Linked DNA regions of Homo sapiens. The protein of the gene in region 2 interacts with the protein of the main gene of each other region in a biochemical or structural test. Each region holds a gene or a part of one and is shown on either strand. Other genes may lie near its edges.

The links.
Region 1: the proteins of TRIM15 (region 2) and IGF2BP2 form a complex in vitro, tested with the Homo sapiens proteins (one study listed by BioGRID).
Region 3: the proteins of TRIM15 (region 2) and PXN form a complex in vitro, tested with the Homo sapiens proteins (one study listed by BioGRID).
Region 4: the proteins of TRIM15 (region 2) and MYLK4 form a complex in vitro, tested with the Homo sapiens proteins (one study listed by BioGRID).

The regions. Positions count from the first base shown.
Region 1 is NC_000003.12:185,822,025-185,829,450, reverse strand, and holds the start of IGF2BP2 (insulin-like growth factor 2 mRNA-binding protein 2), read left to right. Parts: upstream 1-4,408; 5' UTR 4,409-4,490; coding exon 4,491-4,668; intron 4,669-6,037; exon of another isoform or gene 6,038-6,113; intron 6,114-6,237; coding exon 6,238-6,298; intron 6,299-7,426.
Region 2 is NC_000006.12:30,158,546-30,166,556, reverse strand, and holds the start of TRIM15 (E3 ubiquitin-protein ligase TRIM15), read right to left. Parts: upstream 3,012-8,011; 5' UTR 2,956-3,011; coding exon of another isoform or gene 2,954-2,955; 5' UTR 2,873-2,953; coding exon 2,492-2,872; intron 1-2,491. Other genes in the region: TRIM10 (tripartite motif-containing protein 10), read left to right, coding at 5,276-5,389, 5,759-6,127, 7,312-7,407, 7,928-8,011.
Region 3 is NC_000012.12:120,220,731-120,227,762, reverse strand, and holds part of PXN (paxillin), read left to right. Parts: intron 1-645; exon of another isoform or gene 646-1,394; coding exon of another isoform or gene 1,395-1,410; exon of another isoform or gene 1,411-1,579; coding exon of another isoform or gene 1,580-1,610; intron 1,611-2,341; exon of another isoform or gene 2,342-3,385; coding exon 3,386-3,612; exon of another isoform or gene 3,613-3,929; coding exon 3,930-4,045; exon of another isoform or gene 4,046-4,763; coding exon 4,764-4,900; exon of another isoform or gene 4,901-5,012; coding exon 5,013-5,214; exon of another isoform or gene 5,215-6,004; coding exon 6,005-6,140; exon of another isoform or gene 6,141-6,448; intron 6,449-6,837; exon of another isoform or gene 6,838-7,032. UniProt on the Homo sapiens protein: Cytoskeletal protein involved in actin-membrane attachment at sites of cell adhesion to the extracellular matrix (focal adhesion). Recruits other proteins such as TRIM15 to focal adhesion.
Region 4 is NC_000006.12:2,747,910-2,755,816, reverse strand, and holds the start of MYLK4 (myosin light chain kinase family member 4), read left to right. Parts: upstream 1-4,894; 5' UTR 4,895-5,081; intron 5,082-6,410; coding exon of another isoform or gene 6,411-6,522; coding exon 6,523-6,681; intron 6,682-7,907.

The DNA.
Region 1 (7,426 bases), on a different chromosome or scaffold from region 2:
CCTCCTGTCAGATCAGCGGTGGCATCAGATTCTCATCGGAACTTGAACCTTATTTTGAACTGCGCATGTGAGGATAGGTTGCATGCTCCCTATGAGAATCTAACTAATGCCTGATGATTTGAGGTGAAGAAGTTTCATCCTGAAACCACCCCCCAACCTGTCTGTGGAAAAATAGTCTTCCATGAAACCGGTCCCTGGTGCCAAAATGGTTGGGGACTACTGGTCTAAGGGACATTACCCTACTACCAAATCATTCCTGATGCACAGGCAGGTGCAGGACCTTCTAAGAATTACCTCCAAATGTTGGCTTTGCCTCAGCCTTCCAGCAAATAGGCTTCACTTTCTCTTTCAACTTCTCACATTATCTAGAGACACTGGTTATACTGACTACATTATCAGTTGAGCAAAAAAACATTCCGCTATAGCTTTGTAGGTTCAAAAGGATCGCTTGAGCTCAAGAGTTTGAGACCAGCCTGGGCAACACAGTGAGATCCCATCTCTTAAAAAAAATTTTAGCTGGGCATGGTGGCATGCATCTGTAGTCCCAGCTACTCGGGAGACTGAGGTGGGAGGACTGCTTGAGTCTGGAAGTTTGAGATTGCAGTGAGCCATGATCACCCCACCACACTCCAGCCTGGGTGACAGTAAGACTTTTTTTAAAAAAAAAAAAAAAAAAAGAAAAGAAAAAGACTTAACACTTATGAACTCTTTGTTGTTAGACTAAAATGTTTTTTCCAGGTGTGTTTCAGGCCCTCCATGTGATTAAGAAAAAATTATACTTTCCTGAGCTTCAGTTTTCTTACCTGAAAAGAAGGATTAAGAAAGCTTGTCCCAGCCACCTTATCACTGTCTTGCCCAAAAGAATCGCTGGGAAACAATGAGGATCTGTACTGCCTTTGAAACTCTTGAGGAAAACATTAGTTAATTCATGCTTTAAAAGGTAATATGCCTACTATAAGATTTTCTCCAAATTTCTGACCTCTGTTAAACATTCATAAAATCTTGGCTTATCAGGTGTAAACCAAGTCTAGATCAATCAAGATGGTCTCTGTTTCAGCTCTCTGGGGGAGGGATAAGTAGGGGAACTCGAGAGAAAACAGGTAGAAAATAAGTTTTGCCTGGCAGGAGCAAGGCCTCTGAATTTCTGACTTTGCACTTGGAGGCTGTCCCCTATTGTCTTCAAAGGTCCCCAACCCCTTCTCTATCATGTGAAAAATAACTCTGCATTCTAAGATAAGGCACTGTAGATGCTGCAAACCAGGGGTGTAGTGGAAGCATGCCCTCCATCACACTTACAGTTCAAGCCCTCCTTCTGCAGCCCTGCTGTTTCCAAAATTCCAGCAGGACAGCTGACAACTGCAGCAAAGAGCAATTATTTCTCTGAAAAAAAAAATTTCAAAGTGACTTGGTGAAGCAGGGTAAGAAGAGTTCACCAGAAGCCACCTGATAGGGTTCGGCTGTGTCCTCACGCAAATCTCATTTTGAAACGTAACTCCCATAATTCCCACATGTCATGGGCGGGACCCGGTGGGAGGTAACTGAATCATGGGGGTGGGTTTTTCCCATGCTGTTCTTGCAATAGTGAATAAGTATCACGAAATCTGATGGTTTTATAAAGGGCAGTTCCCCTGCACACGTGCTCTTGCCTGCCCCCATGTAAGATGTGCCTTTGCTCCTCCTTCACCTTCCGCTATGAGGAGGCCTCCTGGGCCGTGTGGAACTGTGAGTCCATTAAGCCTCTTTTTCTTTATAAATTACCCAGTCTTGGGCATTTCTTCAGAGCAGTATGAAAATGGACTGATACACCACCTCTGCCAAGAATCTGTACATTGTCTAATGTGTTTTTCGTCTCACAGTAAGACCAAATAATTGATGTATCTAAAATGCTACACAACAACAACAACAACAACAAGTTTTTCTGACCTGTTGGAGAGGAATGAGGCCAACTATTCCTGCCACTCTCGTTTCTCCTTTACATGTACCTGTGAATAATAAGCAAATATGCTGTCCTATAATATAAAGGTGACCATATCAATTAGGAGCACATGTGTAAATAATCTAAAGATGGTTAGTTCAGTCTGCTGAGGTTTATGCATGCACAAGTCATGTTCATTTGTGATTCTCTGATACAATTTAGTAAAGAAGCATCCACACCTAGTTTATCTATTACTTTGGGGATTAGTAACCAAGTTCATTCTCAACTCCTGGAGCAGTAAAATCCGATTCTTTTTCTAGAGAGAGAAAAAAATATGTGAATACTTGAGACAAAAGCCAGAATTCAAATAACTGCAAATATCTAGGTGAAAATGGATTCATTACTTTCTCCTCTGGATACCTAATTAGTTAAGAAGATCTCCTTCTGTAGAATAAAGTATTTTAAAAGTTCATGAATTCCTGGGGGAAAGAAGAGAAACAGGCATTAAGTGTCTGACCACCCATGTCTCAACACGCTAGGCAGTTATCCTTCTTGTAGCCCTCACAACAGCCCTGCGAGGACTGGTTATTTTATCTCCTTATAGATGAAGAAACTTAGGCTCGAGAATGCTGGAACATCTCAGGGCACAAAGATGGGGGCAGAGAGAAGGTCTGAGTCCGGGGCAGATAGGCCTTCCACTCCAACAGTGTTTACCAGACCAGAATCACCTGGGAGTACTTGCGGAAAATACAAAATCCAGCAAGCCCCATTCTCTCCACGCCGCTCATCAACAGGAAAGCTTGGGAAAGACAATACTACTTCACGACCCAGTCAGGAGACCCGAACTTGTTCCATTCCTACATTCGTGACTTCTCCACCCAAGGACACTCCCCGCACCCGCGCCCCAACGCCTTCACAAAACCCAACATATCCGCGATCAAACCTTCAACTCTCCCAGTGGCCCCCAGAGGTCCAGAGCTTGGAATCTTCTTCTGCCTCCTCACCTCTGAATCCCGCCATTCTTCTCCCTCCTGTAGAATTTCATTTCCTGGCTGGGACCAGGCTCTAACCATCAGGCTTCCAGCCGGGCCCCGGAACTTGCAGCCCGCTCTAGCCTGTCTGGCTCCTGCCCGAGCCCCTCGGCTCCAGCCTGCTCTCATCCCAACCCTGCCTCTTCCGTCGGTCACGTTGTTTCCTCCGCTTGGAAGGACCTCTTTCCTCTCCGGGCCCTTCCCAGTGCTCGGGGAACTCCTACACAGCCTGCGCTCCTCCGCTTCCAGCCACCCTCGCCTCCCACCACCCTGGCTTTGGAGCTGAACCGGCCGCGCAGCCGGGCGGCGACCATCCGTCCCCCGGCCGCTGACCCCAGCGCTCCGGCCTCGCCGCAGTCCCTGGCCCCTCGGCGTTCGTTTCCCCACCCGCCACCTGGCTTTCGCCGCCGCCGCCCGGGAAGCCCTCGGCACTTCCCAGAATAGAGAGCAGCTGCCAACGTCAGGCTGCCGCCTGCCGCGGGGTTCCGGACACGCGGGGTCTGGGCGGAGAGGACGTGACTCCGCGCTGGCCTTCCGCCTTCCCTCCCCGGTCGGGAAACTGAGGCCCGGGACCGGGAACCACTTCCCCGCGAGCACGGTCCGCGAGGGCCCGGCCAACCCCGGTCCTAGGCGTCCCGACTCCCGCGCGCGATCCTTCGACCACACGCGCCGCTCGGTCACCTCAGAGAGCGTGGCGGGGAGCGGGTCTCAGAGCGAGCGCACGGCCCGGGAACGCGCAGGGCGCCAGCCCCGGCCAAGTCGCTGCGAAAGTTGTTGTCTCCCAGCCTGCCCTCGCCTCTCACCTCCGGGACACACCTTCCCGCTTGCCCTGGCAGCAGCGCACTCACATCCGGTCCACCTTGCGCACACCCCTCTCCGCGCTCACTCGCAGCCCCTCTCCCTCCCACGCCCGCGGCTCCCCGTCGCCCCCTCGCGCGCTCCCACCCGCGCCCGGGGCGCGCCTTCCCCGCCCCGCCGCTCGCCCGGCCTCGGCGCCGCGCCCGCCCGGGGTTCCGGCGCCCGGAGCCCCAGCCCGGGGCCGCGACCCGCTTCCGCCCGCCTGGCGCGGGGCCGGAGCCCGAGCAGCCACTGCCGAGCGCGGTGGGCGCGAGGCGAGGGGCGCAGCGGCGCGGGGCGGGGAGGGGGCGCTCGCTCGCTCCCTCTCGGCTGCGCACACGCCCGTACAAACTCTCACACAGACACACGCGGGGTGCGCTGCCGCCGCCCGCCGCTGCTCCTCCTCCCGCCACCGCCTTGAGAGGGAGAGAGAGGGAGGCAGAGAGAGCGCTTTGTCCGCGCGCCGCCGCCCGGCCCGGGACTCTGCCCCGAGGAGGCAGCCGCGCCGAGTCCCCGCCTCCGCCTCTGCCCCCGGGCGGGCCGGGCCGGCCGCGGTGGGGGGAGCCAGGCTGAGGGTGGGGGTGGGTGGCGGGCGGGCGGAGGGCGGGGAGGGGGGGCGGAGGAGGAGGAGAGACGAGGGCAGCGGAGGAGGCGAGGAGCGCCGGGTACCGGGCCGGGGGAGCCGCGGGCTCTCGGGGAAGAGACGGATGATGAACAAGCTTTACATCGGGAACCTGAGCCCCGCCGTCACCGCCGACGACCTCCGGCAGCTCTTTGGGGACAGGAAGCTGCCCCTGGCGGGACAGGTCCTGCTGAAGTCCGGCTACGCCTTCGTGGACTACCCCGACCAGAACTGGGCCATCCGCGCCATCGAGACCCTCTCGGGTGAGCACTCAGCGCGGCCCCCTCCCCCCGCCTCGCCCCGCTCAGGCCGGGACGGCGCCGGGAGGGAGGCCGAGTCCGGCGGGCGGCGCCCGGCGGCGGCTCCCGCGCCCGCACGCTCACTTCCACGCACCAGACCCTCAACTCTCGCCGCCGGCCCGCTCCTGGGACGGCCCGCTCCCCTCCCCCCACAGCTCTGGACTCTGCCCTCGCCCTCGGGGCCGCAGCCTTGGGGCGCCCCCCGTGCCGCTCCGAAGGCTCCCGAGGCTCGCCGGCTCCTTAGGGGCACCCCTCGTTCGCCTGGCGCCCCGGGCTGCTCTGAGCTTCCCCGCCCCCCACCCTTTGAGCGTCCCCTGTCTCACTTCTCCCCTGACCTTCCTGTCACCCCCTTTGTCAGGGTCCCCCCTTCCCCAAATCCAGCGTCTCTTCCTCCTCCCCCGGCCGGACCTTCTCTCTTCCAGTGCCTCGTGCCCAGAACCTCTCGCCCTCTGGCGTCTCCTGAGCCGCACTCTCCTTTCGAGCCCCCTCCCCACCTCGCCCCACGGCCCCCCACTTTTGGCACCCCCTCGGCGCCACCCTGGTGACCCCCTTCGAGATCTCGGGGCTCCCCCAGCCCCAGCCCTCGCACGACGGCACATCCCCTCGGTCCTTTCCCGAACCTCAGTCCCCTCTCGCTTGCTCTCTCAAGCGCTCCTATTTTTCTCTGAATTTTTTGTCCGATTTTATTGAGAAGAACTCGGGGCTGGGGGCTTTCCGCCGCCCGTCCCCCCGCCTCCCGCTCGGCCAGAAGCACCTTTTTACGAGGTGCCCTGTCTCAACTCGGTGGGGGCCAGGGTTGAGAACCGGGAAAGAGGCGACCGGGGGGCCCGCGAGCGCGCTGGAGCCCAGACAGGAGACGGAGAGCGACACACACACACACTCGCGCGCGCGCACTCCCCAACTCTCCCCAGCACACGCTCCGCTCCCAGCCGCGCGGGCCCCCGGGCCCCGGCCGGCGCCCCCCGAACCCCGGCCCGGCGGGAGCCCCTTCCCCACCGGCGTGTGGAGTGGGGGCGGGGCGGCGGCGAGGCCAAGGTGACACCCAGGAGCGGGCAGGGACAGGGCTGTCGCTGCGGCGGACTCCGGGGGGCTTCGGCTCGTTTTCTCGGGGCCACCGGGAGGAGAGGGCAGGGAGGGGAGCCCGGTGGAGCCTTCGGGCCCCGGATTAGCGGAATGGAGAGGTGGGGGCCGGGAGAGCAGCGGGGCCGCGCCAGCCCTGCAGCTTGAGTTTCAAATGAGCTCATCCTTTCAAATTGGCGCCGCTCTTTATTAAATTTGTTTTTCCGGTAATGCCACCCACGGCTATACCTGGGGTCCGACCCGGGCTCGCACCCTCCTCGCCTTGTCCCGAGACACGGGGCGCCCACCTTTCTTTCTACTGGGAACCAAGTTCGCCCAGCTCGATCCGGGTAGGAGACCCCTTGGGGGCGCCCGAAGGCGGAGCCCGAGCGTGGAGTTCCGTGCGTGCCCCCCCTAGACCCCCGCGGGCTTGATCTAAGCAAGGTTCTGAGTGCTTTAATTTCTGTTTTAAAGGTAAAGTGGAATTGCATGGGAAAATCATGGAAGTTGATTACTCAGTCTCTAAAAAGCTAAGGTAAATATACTTTGCTTAGTTTTTTTTTTGCGATTGGCCTTACGTATAAGTAAAAAACGTACACACAGCTTTAAAAAACGTGCTCTTGGTAGTTTTTAAAGGGGCTTTTGTTTGTTTTGTTAGTGGAGATACATAGTTTAGAAAGCTACTTTTTTTTTTTTTACTTTCATTATATAAGGTGTTTACTGTTCTTGGAAAATATCTGGTGCCTAATTGGGGGTCGGGGTGGCGAACACCAGCTATGTTCAGTTCGCTGGGACCCTGTAACTTGTTTATCAAAAATTGCCTCCCACCCCCACCTCCCGCCCCTACCCCCAGCAGAATAGCAGCAAATGCTTGTCAAGACTTCCTGTGAGATGTGAAGAGTAAATATTTACTATGTCAGCTAAATTGCTTAACTAAACTTAGCGATTAATTACTTTTCTCTTTTAGATAGTTTAATGTTGAATAGTAAAATAATTCAGTAAGGGGTCAATATTTTGCATAGCTTTCTAAAGAAGTGGGTTGTTTGGATTGGATGGCAGTTAAAAGCCGGACTTTTTCAGTCACTGAGACTACTGAGTATAGCTTCTGAGCATTTTGTTGTTGTTGCTTGTAAGAAATGTTTGCGGCTAAAATAAATACCCTTGTGAAATCTATAGTTATATTTAAGTGCACTGTTGTTAATGACGGAGTAACAAGTTTTGTGGAGGTTGGATTTCTCCACAGTGATTTGCTAACATGAGAAGAGAAGAGAAAACATCTTTGTTTAAAGTTTATTGTGGACTTTAAATTTGGGCCCTTTATTACTCATTCTAAATTTTTTTCTTCTGCTGTGTGTCGAAACTTAGTTTATATCCCATTCACATACATTTCTTCACCATTAGTCATTAAGTAGCTGGACTGGAGCTGTTCAATGAAGTTTTTGATGACCACCTTTACAGTTTATCAGTCAATAGTTTAACCACCTGATTTTTGTCAGGATTGAGTAGATTTTAAAACAAACTACCCTAATTTTATAAATACTTAGATGTGTTGCTGAAGGGATTTTTAAAAATTGTGTGCCACATTTCCAGATATGTTTTATTTTAAGTAAGCAACAGAATAACTTTTGTTTGCAAATAATCTCTGTGGCATATGAGAAAATTA
Region 2 (8,011 bases):
GAATGAAGCTGGAGGCATCATGCTACCTGACTTCAAACTATACTACAAGGCTGTAGTATATGATATCAAATATGTCTGGTATCAAAACAGACATATAGACAAATGGAACAGAAGAAGGGCCTCAGAAATAACACCACACATCTACAACCATCTGATCTTTGACAAACCTGACAAAAACAAGCAATGGGGAAAGGATTCCCTATTTAATAAATGGTGTTGGGAAAACTGGCTAGCCATATGCAGAAAACTGAAACTGGACCCCTTCCTTACACCTGAAATAAAAATTAACTCAAGATGGATTAAAGACTTAAACGTAAGACCTAAAACCATAAAAACCCTAGAAGAAAACCTAGGCAATACCATTCAGGACATAGGCATGGGCAAAGACTTCATGACTAGAACACCAAAAGCAATGGCAACAAAAGCCTAAATTGACAAATGGTATCTAATTAAATGAAAGAGCTTCTGCACAGCAAAAGAAACTATCATCAGAGTGAACAGGCAACCTACAGAATGGGAGAAACATTTTGCAATCTATCCATCTGACAAAGGGCTAATATCCAAAATCTACAAAGAACTTAAACAAATTTACAAGAAAAAAACAAACAGCCCCATCAAAAAGTAGGTGAAGGATATGAACAGACACTTCTCAAAAGAAGACATTTATGTGGCCAACAAACCTATGAAAAGAAGCTCATCATCACTGGTCATTAGAGAAATGCAAATCAAAACCACAATGAGATACCATCTCACACCAGTTAGAATGGTGATCATTAAAAAGTCAGGAAATAACAGATGCTGGAGATGATGTGGAGAAATAAGAATGCTTTTACAATGTTGGTGGGAGTGTAAATTAGTTCAACCGTTGTGGAAGACAGTGTGGCAACTCCTCAAGAATCTAGAATGAGAAATACCATTTGACCTGGCAATCCCATTACTGGGTATATACCCAGAGGATTATAAATTATCCTACTGTAAAGACACATGCACACATATGTTTATTGCAGCACTGTTCACAATAGCAAAGACTTGGAACCAACCCAAATGTCCATCAATGATAGACTGGATAAAGAAAATATGGCACATATATGCCATGGAATACTATGCAGGCATAAAAAAGATGTGTTCATGTCCTTTGCAGGGATATGGATGAAGCTGGAAACCATCATTCTCAGCAAACTAACACAGGAACAGAAAACCAAACACCACATGTTCTTACTCATAAGTGGGAGGTGAACAATGAGAACACATGGACACAGGGAGGGGAACATCACACATCGGGGCCTGTCAGGGCTTGGGGGACTAGGGGAGGGATAGCATTAGGAGAAATACCTAATGTAGATGATGGATTGATGGGTGCAGCAAACCACCATGGCACGTATATACCTATGTAACAAACCTGCACGTTCTGCATATGTATCCCAGAACATGTATAATAAAAAAAAAAAGAAAAGGACTTAGTGCCCCTGAATTGTATACTTAAAAACAGAGAGAGAGGTGGGAGGAAGGGAGAAGAGTATTCTAGGAGGAAGAGACTATGTGCAAAAAGTATTGGAAGCAGGAATGAATAAGACAACTCAGGAAAAAACAGCAAGTGCAGCTCAGTCTGGCCAGACACGTGGTGCCTTGAGGAGGGAGGCTGAGCGATGAGGCCGGACAGGGAGGAAGGATCCCGACTGCAAAGGGCCTTGAATGTCTTGCTAAAGACCTTGGACTTTCTTTGGGCACTAGGTATACATGGGAGGATTTTGTGCAGATGAGTGACTTTGTGTTTTAGGAGGATCTGTCTCCCAGCAGATTGGAAGGTGACTGGAAAGGGTGAGAATGGAGACAGGAAATGCCATGGAGACTGCAAAGTCTGCGCAAGAGATAGGGAGAACCTGGCTGTGAGGATAAGGCAGAATTAAAGATTTGGGAGATGTTTCTAAGGTAACCACTTCCAGACCTGGTGACTGGATGACAAGAGAGAGATCTGAGAGGCTGACAGGAAAGTGCCCCAAGGCCAGATGGGGAATTCTCACAATTCTGGACTACTGCCACCCTCCCTTTCTCAAGAAGAAGAGCAGTGCTAGCAGGTTCCCCTTCCCAGCTCCTCCCTCCCCTCTGCGCCCTGGCAGTCAGGGCCCTATAAACCCCATTTCCAGTCTGGATCCTGGGAGAACAAGTTTACCCTGCCCATAATCTGCAGAAGATCCCACTCGGCATTGGAGCTTTCTTTCCATAGTGAGTGAAGCCAAGGCTACAGTTCTTTGCACTCCACCTCTGTGGGGTCCTCTGAGAGCTGGAGCTGAAGTTCCCCCCAGACCAGGAACTACCACACATCCAAGTGGAGCCCTATCTGCCTTCAGTCTGGGAATGCCTCGAAAGTCCCTGTAACCTTAGGGTTCCCTGATGTGGAAGCCTTTCATCCAGATCCCCGCCCGATTTCCTCCCCTCATAACAGGACATCATCCTGCCCCAAACAGGCCCTAGGTAAAGCTACACTTCTTACCCGGTAGGGCTGAATGGCCTCGTCCAGGAACCCCACGGTGTGCGCCTGGTGCGTGGGACCCTCCCTGCAGAACACACAGAGGAACTCGGCATCGTTCTCGCAGAAGAAGTAGATCTTCTCGCCGTGCTCCTCGCAGTAAGTTTCTCCCAGCGGGCCCAGGGGCACAGGGGCCATGGGAGTCTCTGCCTGCTCCTCCTCTTGGCAGAGCGGGCAGAGCAGGATCTTGCCCGAGGATTGGGCCCCCATCTGGGAGAGCGCGGGGAGGCAGAGCCGGCAGAAGGTGTGTCCACAGGGAATGGTCACCGCATCCTCCAGCGGCCCCGCACAGAGGGTACAGGCAGGCAGCTCATGGACCACCTTCAGGGACGGGGTTGCGGGCATCACGGTGCCTTCCCCAGCCCGTCCACTCCGGTCTCCTCAGCCCACGCGAGTTCCCTTTCCCTGAAATCGAGTCACACTTACATGAATCGCAGAGGGAAACGGCTGCAAGGCTAAGAGACAGAGAGAGAGAAAGAGAGAGAGAGGCAAGAATGCCAGCACAGGGAAGCCACCTGGCTCCGCCTCTTGTGTTCCCTAGAACCCTGGCCACCACCTATCAGCGGAGTGGGTCCAAATTCCAGGGCGTCTCGAATTACCCAGAATTTCCCAGTGGCGGCCAAGTAAGCCAGTTCTTTACTCCTGGCTCCTTCTGGTCCCTAGGGTGGAGAACAGAGCACACCATGAGGTCACAGGGGGATGGGTTTCCTGGAATCTGTAGACCACAGTGGCTGGGGAGAACTGGGGAGCAGAAGCTTCCTGTCAGATTGAGCAGGTGGGAGCCATAAACTTCTGGCTCTGAGGCGTGCCCACAGCATCAAAGTCCAGGCTGGAGTGAGAGGTGTGGACTTCGGGAGATTCTGCCGGAAGTGTGTGGGCGGGACGCTGTTTCGACACTGCAGGTAGGGTGTAAGGATTGCTCATCGGGTCCCCTCTTCTGCTCTCCTTTCCTCCCTCACCACATCTGCCCATGGTGGCCCCTCCTACGGTCCCAAATCCCCCACCACCTGGCACAACAGTCCCCTTTGGGGTTCGGGTAACACTGGACTATTTTATTTATTTATTTATTTATTTATTTATTTATTTATTTATTTATTTTTACTGTAGCGGGGAGAAGGCAAGAAACCATAATGCAAATGATTTATGTTGATACACATTAGAAAACGATTAGTCAGATAATCAGTTTCAACCACATTTATCTAGGGTTTAGTATTTTTATATTACTACATTCAATTTTAATAACCCTCTAGGCAAACATTATTACCTTCATTTTACAGAGAAAGAAATGTAAACTGACTTTCCAAATGTAAAGTGACTTTCCAAAGGTCACAAAGCTAGAAAGTATCACGTTAAGGACGATCCCAGTCTCCTGGCTTAAAGCCCTACGCTCCTCCCACACCTCATGCCAAGACCAAGATCTGCAGCCACGGTCCTTCACCCATGCACACATCTGTGGATAAAACCAGGCCTTCCCCCATTCTCCCACTGGGTGATCAGCCTAGCCCCTTGTGGTTGCTCCCTTTTTACTCTAATCACTTTATTACCTCCCCTTCCCATCCAATCTCTGCTCTTCCTGCCACGAGTGCAGCCCAGGAACTAGTTTGTCCAATACAGGAGCCACCAGCCACATGTGTCTACTGAGCACTGAAATGTGGCCGGTCTGAATGGCGGCATGCTGTATATGTAAAATACATACCGGATTTCTTTTTTTTCTTTTTCTTTTTCTCTTTTTTCTTTTCTTTTTTTTTTTTTTTGAAATGGAGTCTCGCTCTGTCTCCCGGGATGGAGTGCAGTAGCGCGATCTTGGCTCACTGCAAGCTCCTCCTCCCGGGTTCACACCATTCTCCTGCCTCAGCCTCCCGAGTAGCTGGGACTACAGGCGCCGGCCAGCACGCCAGGCTAATTTTTTTGTATTTTTAGTAGAGACGGGGTTTCACCGTGTTAACCAGGATGGTCTAGATTTCCTGACCTCGTGATCCGCCCGCCTAGGCCTCCCAAAGTGCTGGGATTACAGGCGTGAGCCACCGCGCCCGGCCAACACACCGGATTTCAAAGGCTTTTCACAAATTTAAAAATGTAAAATATCTTATTAATGACTTTTTATATGGATCACATATTGAAATGATAATATTTTGGAAATATAGGACTAAATAAAATAACATCATTAAAATTACTTTCACCTGTTTAGACTATTTTTATATGGCCACTAGGAAATTTTAAATTGCATATGTGGCTCACTTTGCGTTTATGTTGAATAGCATTGCTCGGAAGACAGATCTGACAGCAAATTATTTATGGTCACTCACCTTCTTACTTGTGTGCCTAGGGCAAGCTGAATAACCTGGCTGGGCCTCAGCTTTCTCATTTATGAAATGGAGATCCTAATAGCACTGATGTTGCAGAGCAGACACAGAAATAAGATCATACTTTTAAATTGCTTGTATCAATGTAAGTTGTACCGTCATTGTAAATAAATTCTGGCCAAATTGCTTGTATCAATGTAAGTTGTACCGTCATTGTAAATAAATTCTGGCCGTTAGTAGTTTTCTTTCTCCTCCCCATCATAGGGAATATTCCAGCCTCTTTTGAGGCCTGCAGCAGGCCAGTTGAGGCATCACCATTGAAGTTGCTGGTGCAGTGTACACCCTGGCACAAGGACCTTATCTGAGCCCCCACACTCTCCTGCTTGCTGATGGGCAAGCCCTGGGCTGGCTGATACCTCCAATCTCTTTGGAGACAGCTGGCCATATGGCAGAAAGGCTGGAATGGCATCTCCACTCTGTGACCCAGTCTCCCACTTGCCCCCAAAAGAATATTTCTTCTGACAGTGGACAGCTGACATATCACCACTTTCCTTCTACTGTGAGTGTCTCTGGATGGGCAGAAAGGAATGGCCAGCCCCTGGTTATGGTCATCTAAGGTCACCTCTGAAATGCTGTGAGCCCCTCTTCCTTCCTCTCCTCTGCTATTTCCCATCTCTGCTGTTGGCAGGAGAATAGAACCCTGGCTGCCAGAGATGCAAGTGTGTGACGATATGGGTGCTGGTGCATATTTAGTATGTGCCTGTGTCCAGCCATGTGCATGTGTGGGTGTGTGAGTGTGTGACCCAGCCCTTCCCCCGTGGCCAAGCAGAGAGAGTGGCCTTGAGGAAGCCATAGCAGCAGGACCAGCATGGCCTCTGCTGCCTCTGTGACCAGCCTGGCAGATGAAGTCAACTGCCCCATCTGTCAGGGTACCCTGAGGGAGCCGGTCACTATCGACTGCGGCCACAACTTCTGCCGGGCCTGCCTTACCCGCTACTGTGAGATACCAGGCCCAGACCTGGAGGAGTCCCCTACTTGCCCACTCTGCAAAGAACCCTTCCGTCCTGGGAGCTTCCGGCCCAACTGGCAGCTGGCTAACGTGGTGGAGAACATTGAGCGCCTCCAGCTGGTGTCCACACTGGGTTTGGGAGAGGAGGATGTCTGCCAAGAGCACGGAGAGAAGATCTACTTCTTCTGTGAGGATGATGAGATGCAGTTGTGCGTGGTGTGCCGGGAGGCTGGGGAGCACGCTACCCACACCATGCGCTTCCTGGAGGATGCAGCGGCTCCCTATAGGGTAGGAAAGGGGAACTGGGGGATCCCAGGGTGGACTGGACTGGACTAAGAGAAACAGCAGAGTTGTGGATTATTTAGGCCACCCGGAGGCCAAATTCTTTCTCCTTACTTACATGATCACCCAGGCAATAGACCCAGGCATGGAAAATTGTGTTTATGTTTTATGTTTTTTTGAGTGTGTTCTGTGTTCACTTGTGGCCAACAGATAACGGGAGTTCAACAAGTACTTGTTGAATGAATGAGTGACCAAACATGAGTGTGTGTGTCTGTGCCATGGATCAGGTGTGTCTGAAGTTTGCATTTGAGGGAATGATTGTACAAACAGTGTGTATATGTGTTAATGTTTGCATGTTTAGAAGTGTGTCTGGTGTGTTTGGATGGGAGTCTGAGTATGTATATATTTGAGTGTGTAAGTGTAACTGAGAGCTCCTGTTTGTGAATAAATTCGTGTTTACATATATTCAGGCTGGGTAAATGTATGTGGCATGCCATTTTATCTGTCATTAAATGAATGTGTGCTGGTTTTAGTTGTTTATGCATTGTGCTTATGAATTATGTTTTAGTACAAGTCTGTGTGTGGATGTCTTAATTAGTTAATTAGCAGTTGATAGTGAGAATTCTAATATATCTTTGAACACACATATTTATCGTGTGTGTACCTGTTCCTAACTCTATTCTGGAGCAAATAATTTTGAAAACAATTTATCAATTATTTTTACATTACCCAAGTTTCTTCTCCCCTCTGGAGTCATACACAGATAATTGATTTCAGTAACAAGGGAGGGTTGTTATTTACACATGTTCCTTTGGGATGAGTCGGAAACTCAGAATGATTTCAGTGCGGGGCATATCAAACTCAGTACAGACCCCAGATACCACTTACCCGAAGCAAAACACAATAGAATGTTAAACCTGAAGAAAGACTCAAGTGGGAAAACCAAGTCACAGCCTCTAATGGCACAGGATAAAGGGGGAAAGTCCTGATCCAAAGTCTTAGAGACAAATCAAGAGGAAGAAGACCCAAAGGGAGTAAGCTGTCAGGGTGGTGAAGGCTCGGGGATTGTCAGCTAAGGAAGGGACTCCTCTCCTGGGGCCATTTCATTCCTGGAGGCAGAGGGTCAGATGACCAGACAAACCTGAACAAATCATTTTCCATCTTGAGTATTTTATGTTCCTTCTCCCCAGGAACAAATCCATAAGTGTCTTAAATGTCTAAGAAAAGAGAGAGAGGAGATTCAAGAAATCCAGTCAAGAGAAAATAAAAGGATGCAAGTCCTCCTGGTAAGTCATCACCCCTTCCCCAGGTTCCTCCCCTTCCTCAGGGTCCAGTGTCTTCCTGAAACTGAGGCAACATAGATTATAGGGCTTTGAAGTTATTATGAGTTTAAATCCTGACTCTGACACTAACTCTATGACCTCAAGCAACTCTCCAACTTCAGTTTACTTATCTGTAAAATGGAGAGTAAAAATCATCATGACCTCATTGAATTACTGTAAGCATTAAATGAGATTGTGACTGTAAAGTAGCTCAGGGCTGTGCACATAATGTGCTTTTCATACAAGACAGGAGGTAGGGTGTCCCCACCACCTCCTCCTACACCTCCTGTAAGCCCTACCCCTTTTAGAAGCTGCAGCAGATGGTGCTGAGACAACACTGTGAGTCTTGCTTCTCGAAATGGGATGACAAGTGAAAAGGAAACCATGACACAGTTCCAGATCTACCTGGGGACAGGGGAGGAAGAGGAGCAGAGGGAGAAGGAGGAAGCAAACTTTCTCTTGGGCTTGCCTCCTGCCCCCTCAGACTCAGGTGTCCACCAAGAGACAACAGGTGATTTCTGAGTTCGCACACCTGAGGAAGTTTCTAGAGGAACAGCAGAGCATCCTC
Region 3 (7,032 bases), on a different chromosome or scaffold from region 2:
TGGTTTTCTTTCTTGAGGAGTTTGTGGGGGGTTTGGAGGCACCAACCCCTACCCCTCTTGCCTAGTCCTTGCCTGTCCAAATCACTAGGTGAGAATGAAGGGTGGAGAGAGAGGAGGAAGCCATACCAGAGACCCTGTGGCTGGTGGATGGACTTGCTGGGGTTTTTCTCTGTCCCTCAAATAGACAAAACTTTGGAGAAAACTGAATAATGATGTGCCTTCTCCCTGACATCTGCACTCTATGATTTGTTCGTTTGTTTTTAAGACAGGGTCTTGCTCTGTCACCCCGGCTAGAGTGCAGTGGTGCAATTGTAGCTCACTGTAGTCTTGACCTCCTGGGCTCAAGCAATCCTCCTGCCTCAGCCTCCTGAGTAATTGGGACTACAGGCGCATATCACCACACCCAGCTAATTTTTAAATTTTTTGTAGAGATGGGGTTTCACTGTGTTGCCCAAGCCGATCTCCAACTCCTGTTCTCAAGTGATCCTCCCACCTCAGCCTCCTGAATAGCTGGGACTATAGGCATGCGCCACCACACCCAGCTAATTTTTAAATTTTTTGTAGAGACAGGCTCTCACTGTTTTGCCCAGGCTGGGACATGCTACAATTTGAATGTTACTTTATTACTTTTCTTTTCTTTTCAAGGTTGCCCTTTTCATGGTTTGCTCATATTCTACCCAGAAAAGACTTAGGAGACTTAGAAGAAGTTAGTACTTTGCATCCTACCTACACTGCTCTCCTTGGAGGAAGACCTTATTCTGGATTTTACAGAGCAAATCAGATCTGATGTTTGTAGCTTCCAATGTGCTATGGAGCTTCCTCCTGCAGAGTGACTTGGGTCTGGAGAGCCTGATATTTGCAACTGATGTCTGCAGCTTCCAGTGTACCTGCTAGCCCTTATAAACCTCACACCAGTACTTTGAGGTCAGAGTTATTCAAGAGCTTACTGAGACAACAGGCCCTGAGAAGCTAAGCGATTTGCCCTGTGGCATGGATGGTAGAGAGGGGAGCTGGCACTTGAACTCAGGTCTGGCTCGACCTCAGAATGAGTGATCTTGTGTCTCTGTGCCCCAGGACTGCATCCTCTCACCAATACTTCACCAGCCTAGGGATCTGTGCTCCCAAGAGCCTGTTGACATTGTAAACCTGAATCCAATCCATAAACCAAAAGCCCAGGCTTAGAATCACATTGTGGTGGAGCGGGTGTTTGGTGGAGTCCCTGATTCAAAATGTTTGACAAGGAAGCCTGACCATTTGTCTTCTGTTGGGTGTTTGGAGTCCAAGAGACCTGAGATCAGAGTCCAGCATTGTCACTTCATCCAGCCTTGGCAGTGTGGGATGTGACTCTGCCTCTGAACCGCAGTTATACCATCTGTGCTGGTGGCGTTGTGAGGATGGCAGGTAACAAAGGTGAAGCTCCTGGCCCCAGTGGGCCTTCAAGGATGGCAGCTGCTCCTGCCCCCTACTGGGGTTGCACTCATTCGTTGCCTGCTCTGGGGAGTCCTATGGGGTTTCTTAGCTGGCCCTGCCCATGGTGGAGAAAGAGGGATCCACCCATTGCTGATTGGGCCCAGAGGAAATGAGGACACTGCGTGAAGCCAAGACAGCAGGTGTGGCCCTGGAGAGGCCGTGGGGATTGGCCTGGACACTGGTTCCTTTTCTGCCGTTACCTAGATACCTACCAACTCCCTCTAGTTCCGGTTTGCTAGAGACAGGAAGCCAGGCCTCCTCCATGGGACCCGGAGGGCGGGGCGGGCTGTAGGACCTGAACTTCCTTGGAGGTCAGGCGACCAGACCCGGGGTCCTGGGCCTTGGAACAGACATCCCCTCTGTCCATCTGGGCAGGAGCATGGGGTAGGTGTGGCCAGCCTTGAGGGTAGGAGATCAGGACAGGCAGCTGGGACAAGGTGTGGCCCCATAGACCGAGGCCCTGGGTGAGGGCCTTGCTTCTCTATTCCCTCCTCTGAACACAGGTTGGGGGACTGGGAGCAAGGCCACAAGGAAGGATCACACTGGCAGGCCTCACAGCTTGGGCCTCCAACATTCAGGAAGTTGAACCCTTTAAGTATGGCATCATCTGGTAGTCATAGTGGCCTCTTACAGGCCAGGTTTTTGGGGTTTGGGGCTTCTGAGGAGTCAGACAATTGTGCCACTCACTGGCTTTGTTATTTGGAGCAAACACCTCTGACCTCTGCCTCTCCAAGCCCGGCTTTCCTCATCGCTTCGGGGAGAATCATTTCCAGCTACAGGGGGTATTAGGGGGATTAACGGAGACCTCGTACATGCTGCTAGAATGCCTAGCAGTCTGCCTGCTACTGATAAGTGGCAATAAACGCAGCCATTGCTTTTTAGATGTTTATTATCCTGAGGGCTAGGGATCAAGCTGTCAGCTCCCTGGACCCAGCAGGTTACCGGGGAGCTGAGAGCAAGCAAGTTGTGAACGGGGCAGGAATGAGGGTGTGGCATCCAGGGCCAGGCTGTCTGAGCCGTGGGGCTGTTGAGGGTCCCAGGAGGGGATGGAGGAAGTGGGGGTCAGCAGGTCCTACTCCTGCCCTTCTATACCCTTCTTTTCTGGAGACTGGGGAGACCTAGTGCCCCCCTGTTGGCTGCCAGGTGCCAGGGTAATGGAAGCTTACACTAGAGGGCTGATTTGGCTCCCTTGCCGCTGTTAAAAGCAGAACAGTGGGGGCCTGGAGCCTCTGGGGCCGGGCTGCTTGCCAGACTTCCGCAGAAACAGCCAATGGAGCAGTCTTGCCCCCTGCTCACTGAGGGGGTGGGGACCGCTGCACCAGCCTCACTCCAGCCCCCACCTCCCCGCACACCTTACCCCATAAGCCTAGAGCCTCAGGAGGAACCTGGAGCCTGGGCTTCTGCTTCCACCTGGTTAGGAGGGCAGGGACCATCCTGAGTGCCCCTTCCAGTCGGGGGCTGGGAAAGCCTAAGCTCTTAGAAATCAAGTGAGGGCCTGGCATAGCCAGGGCCCCTCCCTGTGACGTGGGGCCCCTCCCGCCCATTCTCTCCGCGTTGCCCTGCAGATTCAGAGTTCCAGACAGGCACTTCACTCGCGGCTGCGCGGCCCTGTCAGGAGGGAACGCAGTGCCAGGTGCCTGACTCCCAGAGGTAGGAGATCCCACAGGGCAGCCCCAGAGCCCGCCTCTAGAGCACTTTCAGTCCTGGGTGGCCAGAAGAAGTTAGCTTTGGGAGCCGGCTCTTGGTTAGGCTGGTCGGGGCTGGTGGCTTCCTGTCCCAAGGCTGGTCATTTCTCCCATGGGTGGGGCAGGTGCTAGAAGGCATTAACTCTTGAGGTGCAGGCAGGGAGGGCCCTGCCACGGGAGAGTCCCCAGGATCCCGGTTCTCACCTGCTACCCGTGCCTTCTCTTTGCAGACGCCCTGCTGGCGGACTTGGAGTCTACCACCTCCCACATCTCCAAACGGCCTGTGTTCTTGTCGGAGGAGACCCCCTACTCATACCCAACTGGAAACCACACATACCAGGAGATTGCCGTGCCACCCCCCGTCCCCCCACCCCCGTCCAGCGAGGCCCTCAATGGCACAATCCTTGACCCCTTAGACCAGTGGCAGCCCAGCAGCTCCCGATTCATCCACCAGCAGGTGAGGCGGGGACAGTGGCTGGGAAGGCCAAGGAGGCTGGGGGACAGAGGGAACTTAGCTGGCAGGGGCTTAGGGAGCCAGGGGATGGAATGGAATTGGGGCAGTCGACCCTTCCCAACCAGACACTGCTCTTCCCACTCACCACGTGAGTGGAACAGTGACCAAGTGGTTAATCACAGGTTTCCTGGCCCAACTGTGGAAATTCCCTGGTGAGACTGGCTGTGGGCAGGAGCCTCCTGGGGGTGACTGGAGCTGCTCCTGGCCCCTGTTCCTTTTTCTCCCCTCGGGGTAGCCTCTGAGCATTCTCCTTCTCGCAGCCTCAGTCCTCATCACCTGTGTACGGCTCCAGTGCCAAAACTTCCAGTGTCTCCAACCCTCAGGACAGTGTTGGCTCTCCGTGCTCCCGAGTGGGTGAGGAGGAGCACGTCTACAGGTACTGCCCCAGTCTGCCCAGGGCACCTTCCCTCCTGCTTAGAAATCTCAGGGACCTGGCCAGGGTGGGAGGCAGCGGAGGCCCGGGAGCAGGCATAGCAACTGGGCCTTGTGGGGTTATTCTGGTTTAAGCTGCAGAAGGCCTGTCGGTGGGCCCGTCTACCTCATCAGTGCCATCTCCATGCAGTGGACATTCTGGGCTATCACAGCATCTCCGTGTAGCTGAGGAACTGAAGCAAGACTTCATTCCTCCCCTCTTCTTTTTTTCTTTTTTTTTGAGACGGGGTCTCGCTCTGTCACTCTGTCGCCCAGGCTGGAGTGCAGTCGCGCGATCTCGGCTCACTGCAAGCTCCGCCTCCTGGGTTCACGCCATTCTCCTGCCTCAGCCTCCCAAGTAGCTGGGACTACAGGCACCCACCACCACGCCTGGCTAATTTTTAGTAGAGACGGGGTTTCACCGTGTTAGCCAGGATGGTCTCAATCTCCTGACCTCATGATCTGCCCGCCTCAGCCTCCCAAAGTGCTGGGATTACAGGCGTGAGCCACTGTGCCCGGCCTCCTCCCCTCTTCTTACCACATCCCTTCCCTACCCTCTGTCCTCTTGCGGGGGAAGACTTCGCATCTCCTCTGCCTTGTTCTCCTTGGGAATCTGGGAACTGCCAAGCCAGTACAAGGCCAGAAAGCATCTCTCACTATCTTCTTTCCTTTGCCTCTCAAAGCTTCCCCAACAAGCAGAAATCAGCTGAGCCTTCACCCACCGTAATGAGCACGTCCCTGGGCAGCAACCTTTCTGAACTCGACCGCCTGCTGCTGGAACTGAACGCTGTACAGCATAACCCGCCAGGCTTCCCTGCAGGTAGGACCGGGTCCCTGGGGCAGGGTCTACCAGGGCCCAGGGCCCATCTGCTGACCTCTAGATCCCAGGAGGGCTCAAGGGCTGAGCAGCCTTTTTCTCTCCTCTCTGCAAGATGAGGCCAACTCAAGCCCCCCGCTTCCTGGGGCCCTGAGCCCCCTCTATGGTGTCCCAGAGACTAACAGCCCCTTGGGAGGCAAAGCTGGGCCCCTGACGAAAGAGAAGCCTAAGCGGAATGGGGGCCGGGGCCTGGAGGACGTGCGGCCCAGTGTGGAGAGTCTCTTGGATGAACTGGAGAGCTCCGTGCCCAGCCCCGTGTGAGTACCCACTGGGCCCTCCCCAGGTGGGGAAGGGCTGGCCCAGCCTGCCCCGGGTCCAGTGTCTGTCCCCTTAGCCCTGGTATCACCCACTCCCTCCCGTGTCTGCCATTTGCCAGGCACTGGGGGGATAGTGGTGAGTCACATGGACACCATCCCTGCCTTCAGCCAGTCACTGCCAGTCAGAAAGGACAGACGTTGTGCAGGCTGAGGGCGCCTGGAGCTTAGCAGCTCTTAGCACAGGCTTTGGGGCCACACAGTGGGGTTCACATCTTGGCTCTGACAGTTACTGTCAGCTCTCAAGCCTTAGTTTTCCCATCTGTAAAATGGGACAAGAACTTATGGGATCACTGGGATAAGACCACCTACCTCAGTAAGGGTGAGAACCAGTAATCCATGTAAAGCGCTTGGAATGGTTTCTGGTGTGTAGTGCGTGGCACACATGGTGAGTGCCCAACACGCGAGCTCTTACCAGTGCCGTCGTGTTACTGCAGTAGCCTCACCTCCATGTCCAGTGTTGTGGAGGAAACACAGGGCGCTTGGGCTTGTTTCGCAGGCCAGCTTTCACTTGGGCTGGGGGCTAGAGGAGTCTTCCTGGCACTTCCTGGTGCCATTGAACTGCCCTTTCTTCTGACCCAGTGATGGGTCCCCAGGAGAGACAGGGAGCTGGTGGACCTCCCTGGGGTTGGGGATGGTGAGACCCCAGTGTCCGAGGTGAGAGGTCGATCTGATCCCCGGGAAGTGTGGGGCTGACTGTGGGCTCCCCACTGATGCTGTGCCCACCCTGCAGCCCTGCCATCACTGTGAACCAGGGCGAGATGAGCAGCCCGCAGCGCGTCACCTCCACCCAACAGCAGACACGCATCTCGGCCTCCTCTGCCACCAGGGAGCTGGACGAGCTGATGGCTTCGCTGTCGGATTTCAAGGTGCCCTGTGAACCCTCCATCTTCCCTGCCCTGCCGCCCCTCCCTCATCCTTCTCCTCCCTTACCTCAGTGTGGGTAGCTGGATCTTGGCATCTCAGTGTTTGGGTGCCTTGCCCCTGAGCCAGGGACACTGTCATGCCCTGGCCTTGCTGTGATGCCAGGAGATGGGGAGGGAGGGCCGGGTCAGCCTGCCTGAGGATTGCAGTAGCCAGTGAAGGCAGACAAGCTGGAGAAGTGCTCAGCTGGGACATTCCTTCCTCCCTGGGTGCTCCCAGCCTCTCAGGTCGAGGGGATCAGGAGGCTGGGACGCTGGGACAAAGAACCTTGTGTTGATGGCTGCTCTGGGTGGGGGAGGGCATTCTCTGCTGGGCCATGTGGGACTTGGGAGCCTGTGCCTGGGAGGTCATTTGCCCTGGAGCCCCATCTCCCACGCTAGCTGTCCTCAACACATCCTCTTTCTTTCTGCCTCTGATCCTGAATCCACAAGCCTCCCTTGCTACTCTTCTCCCATCCTTCCCTCTCGCCCTCCAGGGCCTCTGAGTTCCCACGAGCGTGTCTGTGGGAAACCATGGGGCCAGGCTTGCACGAGGTACCTGCCCTTCCCCTCCCCTGCTGGGCCTCCCCAGTCCTGCCAGGCCTGAGATGTTTAATTTAGAGGATTCAGTGTTTCCTTGGGGATTGATATTGACAGAACTCACCAGCAGCTGCTGACTTCATACTTCCACGTGGGTCAGCTGGAGACCTTTGGGGCATGACCTAGGGAATATGAGAGGGGAGTGAACGGTCCCTGCACCCTTGGCCCTGATGGTGTCTCCTAGCCTCCCTTCAGCTGAGGTTTCATGGTGGGAGACAGGAGTGTGGCTGGGGTGGAGGGTTGAGCCTGGCCCTGTGAC
Region 4 (7,907 bases), about 27 Mb from region 2:
AGACATTTTATGAAACAATTTGTCCAAAGACTTCAAAAATATCAATGTCATGAAGGATTACAAAAAAGAGAGAGAGACTAGGAAGCCTCATCTCCACAAAAAATACAAAACTTAGCCTGGTGTGGTGGTGCCTGCCAATAGTCCCAGCTACTTGGAGGGCTGAGGCAGGAGGATCACTTGAGCCAAGGTCAAGGCTGCAGTGAGCTGTGTTCACGCCACTGCACTCCAGCACAAGCAACAGAGTGAGACCTTGTCTCAAAAAGTAAAATAAAATAAAATAAACGGAATGACCATTTCCTAAATAGATAAAAGGAGACTAAGAAGACATGGTGATTAAATGCGCTATGTAATTTTTGAGTAGATTCTGTTATGTGAGAAAGTGTCTTTTTTCTCAAGAAACATACACCAATTCATATAGGGGTAAAGTTTCATGAGATATGCATCTTACTCGCAAAAGAGAGAGAGAGGGCAAACATGGAAAATGCTAACATTTGGTGAATATGGGTGAAGGATGTATAGGTATTCATTGTACTATGCTTGCAAATATCCCTTAGAAAGTTTAAGGGATATAATTAAAGGAACAATTTGTGTAGCCACTGTAGAGGTAATAAACTGAAACTTTATGTAATATTTCTGAAAAATATTAATTTTTAAATGATCCAATCCATATTTTTATCTAATTTTTAAAACCTGTTTTATTTTCATTTTTGTATTTCGTAATACTTAGCTAATTGCTGTCACTTAGAAGTTTTAGTGGTCTAATATCAAAATTTCCTGTAAAGAAATCTGGATATTCCATAACATCATTATCTTTCTTGCTCAAAGTATCCTATCTCCAAGCAGAAAATAAAAGATAGAAATTACTTTTAAAATTACTATTAATTTTTCTATTAATTACAAAATCTTATATTGCATGATATTCATGCCAGGAGAAGAAAAGCGTGAGACTCTTAACTGTCTCCTGCTCACCATTCCTTTTCTTTGGCCCTAGGTGACCTGGCAAGTGTGGAATATAATTTATGTTTCCCTGGATCCCAGCCTTGGTCACTGGGGACAGATGACCACAAAGTGTTCAGTTTTTTCCTCTCCTTTTAACAAGCTACTTTTTGTTAATCATATTATTGGGTTTTCTTTTTCTTAATGACTCTATTGAAGTATAATTTACATATTATAAAATTCACCCATCTCAAGTGCACAATTCTGCATTGTTTTAAGAAACTGAATGAGTTGTACAGTCATCACTACCACACATCATCGGGTAAGATTCTGTTTACAATTAACCCCCATTCCTGCACCCAGCCCCCGGCAACCACCAGTCTGCTTTCTACGTCTATAGATTTGTCTTTTCTGAGCATTTTATACAAATGGAATCATACAATCTGTGCTCTATGTTTCTGGCTTTTTTTTTTCAATTAGCACAGTGTTTTCGCTCATCCATATTGTAGTAGATACCAGTATTTCATTCCTTTTAATTACGTAGTATTCCATTTGTATGTGTATACCACATTATCTTTTCCCAGTCTCCAAATCATCCGATGGACATTTTGGTTGTTTTCAGTTTTTGGCTATTGTGAATAATGCTGCTGTGAACATTCATGTGCCATGGTTTCTGTGTTCATATGTTTTCATTTCTCTTGGGTAGATACCTAGGAGAAGAATTTCTAGGTCATATGGGAAATAACTTTTTAAGAAATTGCCAACCTCTTTTATAAGACACCTGTATCATTTTATATTCCCATCAACATATTTGGTGAGGGTTCCAGTTTTTCCACATCCTTGTCAACACTTGCTTTTCTCTGTCTTTTTTTTTTTTTTTTTGGTAGAGATGGGGTCTTGCTATGTTGCCCAGGCTGGTCTCAAACTCCTGGACTGAAGTGATCCTCCTGTCTTGGCCTCCCAAAGTGCTAGGATTACAGGTGTGAGCCACCACACCCAACCTATCTTTTATTTTTTTCATTATTATTACAGCTCTCCTAGTGGGTGTGAAATGATGTTTCCTTGTGGTTTTAATTTGCATCTCCCTGATGACTGATTTTGAGCATTTTTTTTCATGTGCTTATTAACCATTTTTATATCTTCTTTGGTGAGGTCTGTTTTAATCTTTTGTCCATTTAAAAAACTGGAATGTTTTGTCATATATTATTAAGTTGTATATGCTAGATGCAGTCCTTTGTCAAATATGTGACTTCACAGTATTTTCTATACATCTGTAGCTGGTCTTTTCATTTTCATAATAGTGTCTTTTCATTTTCCTAATAGTGTTTTTTCAAAGGCAAACGTTTTGAATTTTGAAGAAGTGCAATTTATCAATCTTCGTTTTTATGGGTCGTATTCAGTGGTGATTTTTGAAAGTAAGGAAGTTCTATTGTAATGTGGGTAACAGGGATGCAGTAGCTTTTTATTTGCATTTGGGTATTTGTACTGTTGCTCCGCTTTTGTGTGTAAACATTCAAGAGGTCTTGTTCTGGAAACATTCAGAACGCTGTGTAGAAACAAAAACTCTTAGTGTAATCCAGCCGGGTTTCAATGCCAACCCGTAGACAAGAGCTGTCGACGATGTTTCTTCATGTGGCTCCTTTGACAACACAGTCTCTTACTCAGCTAATGGAAATGTCCCTTGAAAAAAATCAAGGGATTCTTTTCCATGGCTCTGTAGGGTGCTGTTTTCCTGATGTTGGTATTTTTTAGAGAAGTATAACTCCAAAATATGGAAATACTGGAAAAGTGTTCCTGGGCCTGCTCATATTCCTCACTAATGAATTTTTCCGGGTATAAGAGCATCTTTAAGCATGCAGAACATTTTATGGGTATGGACTTAGGATCCTGAGGCTAGGCTGATAGACCAGAATGAGTATGCATGTATAACCTGTTTTTTTGTGGTCAAGGGTTGTGCCAGCAGTGTGCTTGTCCTGTATGCCATCGGAAGCTGGGAACAGTGTGATGCAGCAGAACCAGACAATCAGTCACTTTTAGCATGGATTATTTTAATTGACTTGCTTTTTAGGGCAAGTAGACACAATTAAAGATCATTCTATCTAGTCATTAATCAAATATGTATTGAATGTATATTGTGCATGGAAATGTCTATATGTGGATGCCTTCCAAATTCTTATCTCCAGCCTACACCCCTCCCCGGAACTCCAGTTTCTATCTCCACAGCCTATTCAACTTGAACGTTTAATGGACTTGCCAAAGACTTCATGCCTGACCTTTCCCTCCAGAGTTGCCCTTCCCACAGCCGTCTCCATCTCAGTTAATGTTCACTCTGTCTTTCAAGTGCTCAGAAGAAAATATGCAAAGGTGTCTACCATCTTTCTTTCATACCCCATACCCAATCTATCATAAATCCTACTGATTCTAAATGTACTGTGGAATCCTGCATGGGATTCTGGAACAGAAAAGGGGCATTTGGGGAAAAAAAAAACCCAGCAACAATAAAGTATTGAGTTTAGTTAATAATAACGTTCACCATGGTTCATTAATTGTGACAAGTATACCATACCAACGTAAGATGTTAAAAACAGAGGATTCGGGGTGCAGGGCAAGGGGAACTCTGAACTACCTTTGCACCTTTTCTGTAGATGTAAAACTACTCTAAAAGGAAAAGTTTATTACAAAAAAATAAGCTAAGGAGCAGATTCTCCTGGCCTCTGGCTCACTCAAGCCTGTGGTTGGTTTGCTGGAGCCAACGAGATAGGAAGTCTGCTTTTGCGTGGTGGTGGTCCGGGTGGAGGATGTGGTTGGATCAGCAGCAGCCCACACACATCTTGCCTCTGGCAGGGCATTTGTTGCCTTATCAGTACTTCTACACAATTTAATTATACTAACAAAATTGGTAACCTCAAACCAGCTTAGTCTTTGTATAATACTTTTGTCAGATAATTTATCTCCACAAATTTATAGTTCCACTTCATTACTTTTGCTGAAGAACAAAGCTCTCCAATCTGAAAAATAACAAGCGTTTTGTGTTTTAAAAAAGATTTTGCTGTAATTCATTAATACTACATAAAATGGAAAAATATGTATTTTTATTTCACATGGAATGCATCGATCTGAATTAAAAATAAGGTTTTTTTTTTAAAAGAAGCAGAAGAGCAGCAGAGGCTGGTGTTAGAATGGGGCATAGAGGGGCTAACACAGGCTCCAAATAAGAGGTGACAATTGGCCAGGCCCTGAAAAATTGCAGGGTTTTCAAGACTGCAAAGTCCAGCCTCTGGGCAATCAAAGTTTTATGCCACTTCAGTGAATCTAGGGATGCACTACTGTGAGAGTCGGGCAGGTGGGTTGAAATTCCCCTTTCTTGGTCTGTGCAGAAAACTACGGATGAAGTCCTAGTGTTGCTTAAGGAGAATTTATGAAAAATTTATTCCTGTTTCCTGGATGCCTGTGCCTTTGACCTTTCCCTAGAGCTAGAAATGGTTGGAGACTTTGCAAACATCTTTAAGAACTGAGAAAAATAAAACAAACTTGCTAACTGCTTTCAGAAGATCTTCTATATTGCAGTTGGATATGCTCAAAGCGTAAGATGGGCAAACAGAGGTGGCTGTGGGGTTGCCACACCTGGCATTTTCCCTACTGGGGGAAATTTAATGAGCACTTAAATAATCCTGAGTCTGAAAGGGGCAGAAGGTCCAGGCAGATGATTGCCGAGGACAAATCTAGCTTTGTAAATCCGAGAGTATTGACACAATGATACGAGGGAAAGGTGAAGGTGATATTTCATCCAGTGTTCCCGGTTCATCCTCTCCTTACCTGACCTCTGAAATGGAGCCATTGGCCTTGAAAAGCCTGGTGTCTAAAATTAATATTCTTCCCCATCTGACTAAGAAGGCAACAGCTGAGCAACGTGAGATCAAGAGCCATATTAATTTAAACAGGGGCTGAAAGTGGCATTTGAGAGAGAAGATACTTCCTCTCGTAGTGGACACTTGTCTTTTCAGAAGATTTATACGACTGAGAGTCAAAACTTTTACCAGAGACTTTCATAGTCAGTTTGAATTCTGCAAAATTTCTCTTTATCTTCTGGAATGTATGCTCTAGACTTGGAGTGGCTCAAGCTCTTCGATGTGATCCTATCAATGGTAATTATCTTTGTTTATTGTTATAACCTCTCAAATCTCCTCCCCTTTTTTCTAAGTTACCTTCAATAACAAATTGTACCAAACTTCAGGTAGAGCTTAATGTTTAATATTTCTTTGCAAAATTATTGTATCTTAATCCTAAGCTTTTGTTTTAATACATTAATTTTGTGTGGCTTCCTGATCCAACTTGAGTTTCATCTGCAATTAACCATAGTATTTTAGTCGTAGTTTGCCTTAGAAATAGCCATGCATTTGTTTCCTTATTTTAATAATTTTTTCAGGGCAATTTGAAAGAATGCTAAGAATGATCTGTAATATATCTGTAGAGCTCTGGTTGATAGTATTAATATTTGCATTTTTATTTGTTTGAATGTAAGCTCTTTATGTGGATAAGTATAATTTGTTAGAGCAGTGAATTTTAAACACTTTGGAACTCAAGAGTATCATTTTACTATAGGAACTGACAAAACAAAATATTAAGTTTTCTGATGAGAATCACAATACGGTTTTTAAGCGGAGAAAATGCTCGAAGAGGCGCTTTTCGGAAAATCTCCACCAGGGGGCCTCAGTTGTCAGCCATGCGGAACTAGCACAAATTCAAATGTCTCTCCCTCTCCCTGCCTCTCTATGCAATCAAGTGATGTGTACATATAGACATGCGTATATGTCTCTAGTATCAAAGCGAATTATGTATGCTGCATTACTTCATTTGCGAGGAAAGTATTTTAAGGAGAGTGAAAAGACTCTGAACTTCTCGGTACATAGCTGTTAATGCAGATGCAAGGAAAGGTATCTGGGAGTGCTGTCCACGTGAGAAGACTGTAAGGAAATAAATTTCTTTTCACAAATAAACACCACACATTTTAAGGCATAGGTAGAGAAGAGTTCTGGAAAAGGACTCATTCGGGAGCGATCCCTCTGCAGAGGGAGGCCAGGGGAAGCAGAGAGACCCCTTCTGTGATAAGCCCTTCCCACGGGGCTGCAAAACCTGCGGTTCCAATTAAACCCAAAGATACTTTATAATTTACATCCAAGCTGGCCACTTGATCTACGGCTTGTTTTGTGCAATAAGGAGCATATTTCATCACCAGTGAATCTTGACATTGCTTCTTACTGTTTGCTTTTGTAGTTTTAAAGTGAAAAAATTTTTTTTCCTTTTAAAGTTCCAATGTTGGAAACTCAATATGAATGTTAGTATTTCTTTTCCTGATTTTGGATCCTCTCTCCAGTTTAAACAGAAGGGACTTCCAAATTCTCACTGGTCATTTTCTCAAGAAGTCAAATGCATGAATACGTGATGAGAACTTTTTGTGTTTCCTTTCTTTGCAGTCAAGAGAAAGAAGCACTGAAGAGTCATAATTGTGTCCTGATTTATAAATCGGAGACAGAGGGAGACGAAAACCACACTCCAGAAAGTAGCTTAATCGGACTCACTACTAAGATGTTAAAAGTGAAGAGGCTGGAAGAATTCAACACGTGTTATAACAGCAACCAGCTGGAGAAAATGGCCTTTTTTCAGTGCAGGGAAGAGGTGGAGAAAGTGAAGTGTTTTCTGGAAAAAAATTCTGGGGACCAGGATTCAAGATCTGGACATAATGAGGTAATCATGTTCTAATTTAGTCTCCTAAAAAGTATTCATTCTATCTTATCTTTTCTAATGTCATGGAGCCGCTTGTGAGTACAATTAAGGAAAGTTTATGAATAGGCATCATTCCACTTTGCTTCAGTGAGAATTGTGTGTGTCGACTATACAATTGTGTTTGGTAAATAATTAGGAGGCCTTTGAAACTGCATTTCTGCCAGCAGTCGACTTCACTTTTAGTTAGTGGCTTAGGAGTTATACAGCCAGCTTGCAGAAATGAAGAAGAATCCTTTAGCATGATGGATTTGGGCTTGAAATTCAGAAAAGGGCTCTGAGAGGCACACTGTTCTGCAGAAAGAAGTTTCTCCTTTTTCCTTCAGATCTTGAGTTCCTCACGCGGTAGACAGCAGAGCTGTTGATAGTGAAGTCCAGAGAAGGGACAAGAAAGACTTGCTGATGGCACGACGGTGGGGCTTGTACCCTCCTCTGTGCAGAACGAGAGTTCTGAGCCCCATTCCAGCTGCTCGTTCTTGGGAAAAATATTAATTTAACCAAGGGCTTGCCACATCTGAATTAGTGAGATAATAGCAATTGTGAAAATTAAGTGTGATCACGTCTGTAAAGCACTCCGCCTAGTATCTGTCACTAGAGTCAGCATTTAATATGTGTTAGCGGCAGCAGCAATTACCTCCCCTGCCTTGGCCCAGTCAGTTCCTGCCCATCATCCGTTGGCTCCTTGCCCGGTGGGAGCATCAAGCATTTTGCCCGTGCCTTCATTCCAGCACATGTGGTGGTTTTGAACATGTTGATCACCTTTCTCTAGACAAGGCTCCTTAAGGTTGGGAAACCTCGTGTTATTTGTTCATGTTTCCTCAGTTGCTTTCCTAGTAACGGAAACAAATAGGCACCAAAAGTGTTTTTGGAATGCACAGATCTATTTAAGTGAATTCTGGTTGAGGGCTGGGAACCATTATTTTTGATAATCAGAGCAAGTGATTCTTATCAGGCAGGTTTGGAAAACATCCTTCTTTGCCCAGCTACTGTTCTAAAAAACACTATTCAGGTAGGAAGGGCGTTTCTAACAATGCAATAGACAATGAAATAGAGAGATTGTATATAAAAGGTCTAGGAGGCTTTTTATTGTAAGTGAATAAGAAATGACAAAATGTGCTGGAGAGAATAAATGAATCAGATTGAAACATTTTTTTGAGACCTCTGCTTTCCCCATGAGTTCAATATAGACC